Regions from separate parts of the Homo sapiens genome. Here region 2 is linked to region 1. Evidence: fine-mapped expression QTL. Tissue or cell type: testis. Region 1 holds a variant in brackets; the other region holds the start of a gene. All regions are shown on one strand. Distances are between the middles of the regions.

The links. PIP is the estimated chance that this variant, and not a neighbour inherited with it, causes the effect.
Region 2: it holds the start of LINC02423, and the variant in region 1 is fine-mapped to the expression of LINC02423 in testis (GTEx, PIP 0.94).

Annotation. Positions count from the first base shown.
Region 1 is chr12:118,731,681-118,736,831 of GRCh38, reverse strand. No RefSeq gene overlaps it. Among named protein-coding and RNA genes, the nearest start is that of LINC02423, 27 kb to the left of the region's middle. The variant C/T (reference allele first, on the strand shown) is at 2,663.
Region 2 is chr12:118,758,824-118,763,974 of GRCh38, reverse strand. LINC02423 (long intergenic non-protein coding RNA 2423) reads left to right here and starts at 2,296. Exons shown (of 2, transcript NR_134999.1): 1 at 2,296-2,383; 2 at 4,944-5,151.

The DNA of each region.
Region 1 (5,151 bases):
GTAGCTGCTAAGGTTTCTTTCTACAATTCAAAGTCCTGGGCTCTGCCCCAGACACACTAAAGCAAAATCTCTGAGTACAGAGCCAGGGAATCTGGATTTTTTTTCTTTCCTCAAGTAATTTAATTTTTTAAAATTAATTTTTTATTGAGGTGAAATTTGCAGGGTAAAATTCTGCATTTTAAAATGTGCAATTCAGTGGTATTTTAGTACATTCACGATGTTGAGCAACCCTCACTTCTATCCAATCCCAAAACATATTTATCAACCCAAAAGGAAAGCCCGTATCTCACTCTCCCCTCCCAGCAACTGGCAACCACTAACCTGCTTTCTGTATCTATAGATTTGCCTATTTAGGACATTTTATATAAGTGGAATCATAGAATATCTGTTCTTTGTGACTGGCTTTTTTCACTTAGCATAATGTTTTCAAGGTTCATCCATATCGAAGCATGTATCACTTCATTTATTTTTTATTATTAATTTTTGTCTCACTCTGTCGCCCAGGCTGGAGTGCAGTGGCACAATCATGGCTCACTGCAACCTCCACCACCTAAGCTCAAGCGATCCTCCCACCTCGGCCTCCTGAGTAGCTGGGACCACAGGCGCATGCTCACCATGCCCGGCTAATTTTTGTACTTTTTGTAGCAACAGGTTTTCGCCATGTTGCTCAGGTTGGTCTCAAACTCCTGGGCTCGAGTGGTCTGCCTGCCTCGACCTCCCAAAGCTCTGGGATTACAGATGTGAGCCACAGCACTCAGCCTGGATATACTACAATTTGTTAATTTATTCATCAGTTAATGGATATTTGGGTTGTTTTCACCTTTTGGCAATTGTGCATAATACTGTCCCCAAGTGATTTTGATTTTACCAAGTTGAGAGTTGGCATTTGGGAACCAGTACTGGGGTTACAATCACTTAAAAAAAAAAAAAAAACAAACTTCTTGAACTTCAGCATGCTTCCCTCAGAATCACCTGAAGAGTTTGCTAGAGCCACTTTCCGAAGATACCCTGGTTCAGTAGATCTGGGTGGGACCTGGGAATCTTCATTCATAATGAGGCCCCCGCCCCTCATCCCTGATGCAATTCTGATGCAAGCGGCCTACGCACCACTCTGTAAGAAACAGTGATTTAAAAGAAGGTTATCCATGGTGGCTTGCATGCTGGGACATTTTTTTCCTGTTCTTTAACATTTGCCAATATTTGTTAAATATTCAATAGGGAGCATGATTTAATTTTATATTCAGAATTACTTTGGATATTAACAAATAAAGAAAAAAGGGAAATAATTCTAATGCCTGGCCTGATTCTTCCTCTCCCCAGCCCTACTCTCACCAGCTAAGACTTCTTAGACGGAGTCTTGCTTTGTCACCCAGGCTGGAGTGCAGTGGCGTCATCTCAGCTCACTGCAACCTCCATCTTCTGGGTTCAAGTGATTCTCCTGCCTCATCCTCCCGAGTAGCTGGGATTACAGGTGCCCACCACAACGCCCACCTAATTTTTTGTATTTTTGGTAGATATGGGGTTTCACCATGTTGGCCAGGCTGGTCTCGAACTCCTGATCTCACATGATCCACCCACCTTGGCCTCCCAAAGTGCTGGGATTACAGGCGTGAGCCACCGAGCTCAGCCTGGCTAAGACTTCTTGACCCCACCCCCATGCTTCCCGAAGCTCAAGCCTTTCTGAAATGCACGCACACATGTTAAGAAAGCCAATGGCTGATATCTATGCACAGGACACTTTTGCCTACGGCATGTCATACAATTTGCTTACTTACTATGCGCCTTTTGGAGCATCTAAGGAAATCAGAGCTGGGGGCTGGATCTCTGTTTGTTTTCCTACAGATAATGATATTCTCCCACCACCTAAGTTAATAGATTGAGGCTTGCAGGCATTTATGAGGGGTGTTTTTAATATGGTTCTGGAATATTTGCCCTATAAATTCTTAAGAACAGACTTATAGATTGCCCATTACCAACATTATGGGCTATTAATAAATCAGTTACAGTCACGTATTTTTTAAAAATTGCATTTCTCCCTTTGTGTTCACATTCTAAGCAGCTAAAAATTGGTGAGAGAGAGAACATCCGTGCTGGATAAGGGCTGTGATTTCCTATAGAAAGATGGCAGGGGAAGGGAGTTGACAGCTAAGTCTGAAAAGACAAACAGTTTGAAGGAAGAAACGAAGAGAAGTTAGGGGCCCCCACCAGCTGGGCGTTGTTGAGATATTTTAGAGCCACAATCTATCTTCTGGTGTGCTCAGGCAACAAGGATGAGTCCGCTAGTGTCTGTCCTACTGTTTCCTTTGCTATAAATCCCCTTGATATTTCTCTGCGCAGCTGCTCTGGGTTCACTTTGCATTTATGGATATGCTGCCTATTGTGGACAGTACCCTGGGCATTGCCAGGACTCTATGGCTGGTATGCACACAAATGCAGTCACATGCAGGGACAGACTCGAGTTCTCCAGCTCCACAGTCCCTTCCCACTGGCATAACTGGCAAAATCCCTTATTCCCGTCAAGTTTCTCATTCCAATCCAGAAGTCCCTAGGGGATGACGTTGCATTAGTGTTTGGTACTCCTGGAAGCTGCTGTTTTTATACCACCACTGCCACAGCACTGTTTCCCACCTGTGGCACTCAGAGCTCCCTCAAATTGGCACTG[C/T]CTTTTCTAGCGGTGTACATAGTTTATCCATCACCTGCCCCACAGGAGGACCACACTGCACTGGTGCTGGGGACCACATTGTTGCAGCACTTTGTATTTTTACCCATACAATCCTTTTCTCCAACAGCAGTAAATCTATGATGATAAAAGTAAGTATCCGTTTTTTTGTTTGTTTTTTTTTTTTTTTTTGGAACTGCTCTTTTCCTTGAGCCCCCAGGACTTGTAGCTGAAACTGAGTCACAATGCCCATTGAAATTTTCCCCTCCAAGTGGATTCACCTGAATGGATCATTTGGCCACTTTACAACTTTTCGTTATTCAGCCCCATCTCCCCCTACCCAAGCTATCATCCATGGTGTTGTCTGAACACCGAGCCACTGAGGCTGGTGGCATTTTTCCCCCAGAAGGCTCCAGTGCAAATCAGTAGATGCAAATAGACAGCAATTTCTGGCATCATAGACCCTGTGTGATATAAGAAGACATTGCTGGCTGCCATAACAAACCAACTTAACATCTCAGTGGCCTAAGACAAGCAAGGTTTATTTCTCACTAACTTCACAGTCTGATACAGCTCAGGAGGCCTTCCTGATGGCTCTCCTCCAAGCAGTGACTCAATGATCCAGGCTCCATTCGTCATGTGTTGCTGTAATCTGCAATGTATGACCTCCACTGTCACTGCAGAAGAGGAGAGAAAGGGGTTAGTGGTGGAAGATATCTGAGACATGGCACCAAAGTATGGTACCAGTGGTGAATCTGTACAGGTCTGTGGCAACCTCAATTATTGCCTCCTCAGAAGAAAGAACTCAACAGGGGGCAGAAGACAGAAAGAGAGGCCAAGGCAAGTTTTAGAACAGGAGTGAAAGTTTATTAAAAAGCTTTAGAACAGGAAGGAAAGGAAGGAAGGTACACTTGGAAGAGGGCCAAGCGGGCCACTTGAGAGATCAAGTGTATGGTTTGACCTTTTGACTTAGAGTTTTATACGTTGGCATAATTCCAAGGTTTATGTTTTGTCTTGTTTTGTTTCGAGACAGAGTCTCACTCTGTCGCCCAGGCTGGAGTGCAGTGGCGTGATCTCAGCTCACTGCAAGCTCTGCCTCTCGGGTTCATGACATTCTCCTGCCTCAGCCTCCCGAGTAGCTGGGGCTACAGGTGCCCGCCACCATGCCCGGCTAATTTTTTGTATTTTTAGTAGAGATGGGGTTTCACCGTGTTAGCCAGGATGGTCTCGATCTCCTGACCTCGTGATCTGCCCGCCTCAGCCTCCCAAAGTGCTGAGATTACAGGTATGAGTCACCGCGCCTGGCCAATTCCAAGGTCTTGAGTTACATCTCTCCTGATTTTTCCCTTGGGGTGGGCTGTCCACATGTGCATGCTTAAGCCCACTTTTCCAACTCCTGAGATCTTCCTGGGAAGCTGCTGATCACCAGTTTCAGATGTTTTCTATCTTTTGGGAGCCTGCCTTTCCCTGTCACCAGCTGTGACCAATTATTACTTTACAGAGACAGTTAACAACAGCCTGACTATCCCCTGATGATCTCCCAACACTCCTGGCATGTGTGTGTGTGTGTGTGTGTGTGTGTGTGTGTGTGTGTGTGTGTGTGTGTGTGTGTGTGTAGGGGGAGCCCTCTCCTGCCCTGCTCATGCCAGACTAGCTACCCACTATAACAAAGGGAGCATTAAGGAATCTTCAATGAGACACCTGCCTTCCACTGGCTAAAACCCCGTCATGTGGTTCCAACCTAATTGCAAAGAAACCTGGGAAATTTGATTTTCCTGCATGGCTAAGAGGAGGGTATGAGATTATTGACCATGTAGTTTGTCTCTGCCACATACCAGTCTCCATTTAAACTCAGCCAGGAATCCAAGCACATGTGGATTCTTAAAGATTTTGTTCTCCTAATGAGATTATACATTTCCTAAGGGTAGAAATTATTATTCTCTTGAGTATCCCCAAACCCACAAGCAGTGCTTAGTACAGTGGTCCCTGACGTTTTTAGCACCAGGGACAGTTTTCATGGAAGACAATTTTTCTGTGGATGGTAGAAGTGGTGGTTTGGGGATGAAACTGTTACACCTCAGATCATCAGGCATTAGATTCTCATAAGGAGCACGCAACCTGGATCCCTCGCATGTGCAGTTCACAATAGGATCACACTCCTATGAGAATCTAATGCTGCCTCTGATCTGACAGGAGGCAGATCCCAGGGTAATGCTCACTCACCCAATGCTCACCTCCTGCTGTGCAGCCAGTTCCTAACAGACCACAGACTGGTACCAGTCCATGGTCCAGAGACTGGGGACTGCTGGCTTAGTATACACTGAATGTCCATCCATGGCCACAGACTTCTAGAAACCAAGGACATCTCCAGAGGTAATTTGGGCCAATTATCTGCCTTCAATTCCTGAATATGTCTGGACCCACATATTGCTTTAAAAGATACCAAACATATTCATAAGCATTATCTCATTTATGCCTCATAACATCCCCAA
Region 2 (5,151 bases), 27 kb before region 1:
AATTCCCATGAACTCAGAGATGGAAGGAATCCAAGTCAGATGACATCATTGAAATGTTGACTAACCACAGAACCAAATGACCTCCAGACTACCTGTTATGAACTTTATGAAAGTCTTTCTTAAATATATTGAATCATGGTTTTCTATTACTTGCAGCCAGAAGCCCCCTCTCTAATACAATGAACTTTAATTCTGGTGTTAGACTGCATGGATTCTAATCCTCATTCCATCAACAATTAGCCATGTGACCCTGGGCAAGTCTCTTGACCATTCTGACCTTGGTTTTCCTCTTCTGTAGAATATGGTAGGTGATAAAAATTCAAGACCAGTGGGAGGGTACAATAGGAGGATGAAAATCAAAGCACTTTGCAAATGGAAAAGCCTGAGGTATTACTGGATATTATTGTTGGTATTATAGATTCAGCAGGGCCAGAAGAAGCCTGAGGCATCCTGGGGGGCTCAGAGCCTGCCCTTGTTCCTGGGAATGGACTCTAGGAAGGGAGCAGCTGCAGCTGCTCAGATAAGAGCACATTTGCATTCTCCCAGCCTCCCTGCCCAGAGCTCTGCAGACTGAGCCAGACAAGCAGCCTTTCTTGGGGGCACAGGGCCAGCAGCATGCATCTGATAGAGGCAAGGAAGCTGAGATGGGGGCTGAGAGGGGGCTGCACCCCAGCCATGTAAGTCCACCAGGGAAGGTCATGCACTAGTAACTGTGTAATAGTTCAACTATCACTTCCCGACAGTCTACTAGGTGGCCAAATCCTTTGTTTTAAGCATCTCCTTCAACCCTGGCAACAACTCTATGAATAGAAGTAGCTTTATTCCTATTTTATGGATGAGAGACCCAATGTTCAGAGAGGTTAACAAACATGTCCAAGTTTACACAGTCAGGCGTGGAAGAGCCAGGTCTGTCTGACTCCAAAGCCGTGCTCTTAATCACTATGCTGTAGCCAAGAATATTAAATGCCCCTCAAGCAGCAAGGAAAGAAGAAAGCAAGAGCAGTCCTGGAAAGAGTGGGGCACTGTGTTTATTGACCTCCTTGCCTTCCTGGAGCTCACTGCCCAGCCTATGACTGAAGCATTCAGACTCCAACTCTCCCTGCATTTTGCTTTTAACATCCTGGCCTCTCTCAAAACTTTAATTTTCTTGTGTCAGCTCTCTTAAGAGTCCCTGAGGGAGACAATGCTGCTCTGAAAACGGCTCCAGAAAAGTGGAGAACATACTTTTCACGCAGGGTCTGGGGGCCCAACAGAGCAAGTAAAGAGGAGCATTTGGGATTGGACTGGTTATTCTCTGTTTGTGACACTCCCCCAACCAGATCCACTCTCTGCCATGCTCTGCACTGCCCCAGGTCCTAGCATGCTGGCCTGTATGGATGGTATCAACAGGCTCACTTTTCCTGTGGCTTCTCTGTGGATTTGACCAACAGGATGTCACCAGAAAAGATTAAAAAGCTAGAAGGAAGTTCTAAGTATTTCTCCCTCCAACCCTACCACCACTCCCCCAGCCTCAGTGCTGCAACTCCACCTGTGGTGAAGTCCTTCTTTTTTTTTTTTTTTTTTTTAACAGAGTCTTGCTCTGTCACCCAGGCTGGAGTGCAGTGGTGTGATCTTGGCTCACTGCAACCTCTTCCTCCCAAGTTCGAGATTCTCCTGCCTCAGCCTCCCAAGTAGCTGGGGCTACAGGTGTGGATCACCATGCCCACCTAATTTTTGTATTTTTAGTAGAGACGGGGTTTCACCGTGTTGGCCAGGCTGGTCTCAAACTCCTGACCTCAAGTGATCCGCCTGTCTCAGCTCCCAAAGTGCTGGGATTACAGGCATGAGCCACTGCTCCCAGACAGCTGTGGCTAAGTCCTTCTCGACTACAGCTCCTGCTGGTTCCCTCCCTGGTTCTACCTATCACCAAGTTCTGGTAGGCCCACTCCTCTCTGCATATTTAAGCCTAGGGGTGGTAACATTTCCCAACTATTGCTAGTCTCTTGGTGCCTCAACATCTCTCATTGGTTCTCCCAACCTTGCCTGCTCCTCTGTGAGTAGTACCTTCATTAAATTTTCTCTAAACTCCCATTTTTCTGTTTCCTCATAGGGCCCTGAGTATGAGGAGGTGGGACAGAGAGTGGGTGGCAGTTTGTAATATGTCCTCAAGGAGTTGGACTGTCTTGGCTCAGCTATTTGGGTATTAATAAATTTGCCAGTGGGAGGAACTTTAAGAAAATTGCAGTGATTGGTTCTACTCTGTGTGATGTCATCAGAGGAGGGTGGAGCTTTGTGGCTAGGGCAGTCCTCCACTTCCGGAGATCCAGGCTCCAGAAACAGAGGAATTTCAGGCTTCAGGATTTCAGAGGCCAAATTCCATCTGGCCTAGTCTGCCTGGCTCACGGTAAGCTTTAGAATGGTAAAGAATAGAAAGTCTATGGTGGCAAGATGGTATGTAGCTGTCACACACAATAGCACCCTCTTTTCGGTTATATGGCACTTTCAAATTTACAAGGCATTTTCTCATGAATTTGTACATCTGAGCCTCATAACAATCCTCTGAGACAGATTAAGGCTGTTTACTCCCATTTTACAGCTATGAAAATTAAAAATTAAAAATTAGAGAAGGGAAGGGACACATCTAAAAATCACATAGCACCAACGGGTCTCAACTTCCAGCCATGGTGATCCCAAGTCTGGGGCTCTTTTGAACACACTTCAGATTTCTAGCTGATGAAATATCTGCTTCAGTGGCTGCAAGATCACTAGTCAACCCTAAGAAGGCTGTCCTTCCCTCAAACTCAAAAAATAAATAAATGAATAAAAACTAGCATTTGTTCATTGAAAATCTATTAAGTACAACACATTGGGCAAAATACTTTATATACACTTTATCCCTTTTAATCCTCAATAATGATGTGAGGTAGTTATAATTATCCCATTTTAATGAAAAGGAAGCTGAGGCTCAGAGAGGTGAAGTGATTTTCCCAAAGTCACAAAGATATAAGTGATAGACTTGGGATTTGAAATAAGTCCATCTTATGCCTCCTGTGCTCAACCATTGCACCAAACCTCCTCCTAAAAGAAAGCATTGTTGTGATGGATGAAAGCCATGTCCTTCTCCTCTGCCAATGCCTGGAGCTATGTTTGCAAATGGAGTGAGCTGCATGTTGAAACCTAATTATTCTGCAAGCAGCACCCATAACAAGGCAACCCCTCTCCTGGCAGCTTGTCTTCAATTCTTTGCTCCCACACAATATTGCCAGAGGCTCAGGGGGGATGAGAGTCAAGTTTCCATAGACGGAATGGATGAAACCTCACTCATCTGTAGCATTTCATACTTTTGGATGTGTTTGAACATCCATTGGGTCACTTCATCCTTGCAGTAAACCTGTTGAGCACATAGGACAAATATTTCCACACCCCGTCTTTCTCTAGAGAAAATGAAGGGTACAAAGAAGCGAAGAGACCTTGTCCAAGGTCACACAGCTGGTATAGGTAAAGCCAGGATTCCAACCTACCTAGATTGTGCTCCAAATCTTTTGCTCACTCTACTACCCTGTGCTTGTCATCTTGAAATAAGAATCTGAGAGGTAATGTGACTTTCCCAAGGTCACACAGCAAGACATCCTTACCAGAATTAGACTCAACCGACATACCTTGTGTATCCTAGCCACCCCCACCCTTCCACATTGTCTCCTCTTTACCTCCTTCTTCATTCCTAGAAATTCTCCCCTCTTGATTTCCCACCTCAAGTTCTCCCTCTAGAGGTAGTTCAAACTAAGAGATGTCTCTCACCCCATGACCTCCTTGAGAAGAAACACAGAAAGAGAAGGGGAGGGAAGCCATTGCAGGCAATACTTGTGTGAGTTGGTGATGGCAATGTTTCTCAAACTCTTGTCAGCATCTGCCTGCTCTCTGCCTGCAGGAAGGAGGTGGAACAGCTGTGCGCACATCTGCCAGAGGAGCTCTTTAAAGAGCAGAGAGGATGCTATTTTCCTACCAGCAGTAGCAGCAGCAGGGCAAGTGCTTGAGGCTCATTTTGGGTTGATTCTCTCTCTGACTAAAGGTTCATGTCTTCAGAACAGCTGTGCACACAGAGTGGAGTAAGGCTGTCAAGCAAGGAGACCTCTGAAGCAATCTCAAAAGCCCCCTGGTCAAATTCATGTGAACTGACTATTCACAGAGGTTGCTTACAAACAGAATATAATAACTAAGACTAATTGTGTATGCCAGATGTATAACTTAGAACAGCTATCAGCTATCATGTGTATATGTGTATACTTACTAAATATATATATATCTACTGTATATAAAATACAGATATCTACTGTAGATTATAATATATATATATATACACATATATATATATCAAAAAAACTCTACATCATGGCTACTATTATTATCATCCCCATGTCTCAGAGGGGAAAGCTGGGGCAGAGTTAAGTTAAATACCTTGCCAAAGGTTACACAGCTTCATTGTGGTGGAGCCAGAATTAAAGCCCAGAAAGTCGAGTTACAGAGTCAATGTCCTTTATCTCTGCGCTATATTTACTCTGAGTGATTCTAAAAATGTAGTGCATATAAGAATTACCCTGACACTGTTTAAAATTCAGATTCTTGAGCTCCTGCCCTCTAAATTCAGGAGGGATGGGCTAGAGAGCTCAGGGATATGCATTTTAATAAGTTCCCTTGCTTGGCTCTTGTACCTATGGTTGATAGACCACTCTTTGAGAAAGAATTACCAAGAAATGTGTTCATTCACATATTTTATAAGGTAAGAACTGTATGTCAGGACCTGGGATAGGCATAGCAGATAAGAGGAAAGGTAATTATGATGCCAGCTGTAACTTTCTGAATGCTAACCATGTCCTAGGAACCTTGCTAAATGTCTTGCATTCATTAATGTTTAATTATCACCACAACCCCATAAGGCAGGTGATATTATGACCTCTTCATTACAGATAAGAAAACCGAAGTTCACCAAAGTAAAGTGACTTGTCCAAGACCTCACAGCTATCAAGTAGAGAAACTGGGATTTGGATGCAGGTCTGTCTGACTCCAGACACCGCGATCTTAACCATCGAGGCAGAGTTTCTACCTTTTAGGAATTTCCAAATAGAGGAGACAACCTCAGGACTTGAACAATGCAGAAACACAGTCAAAAATACA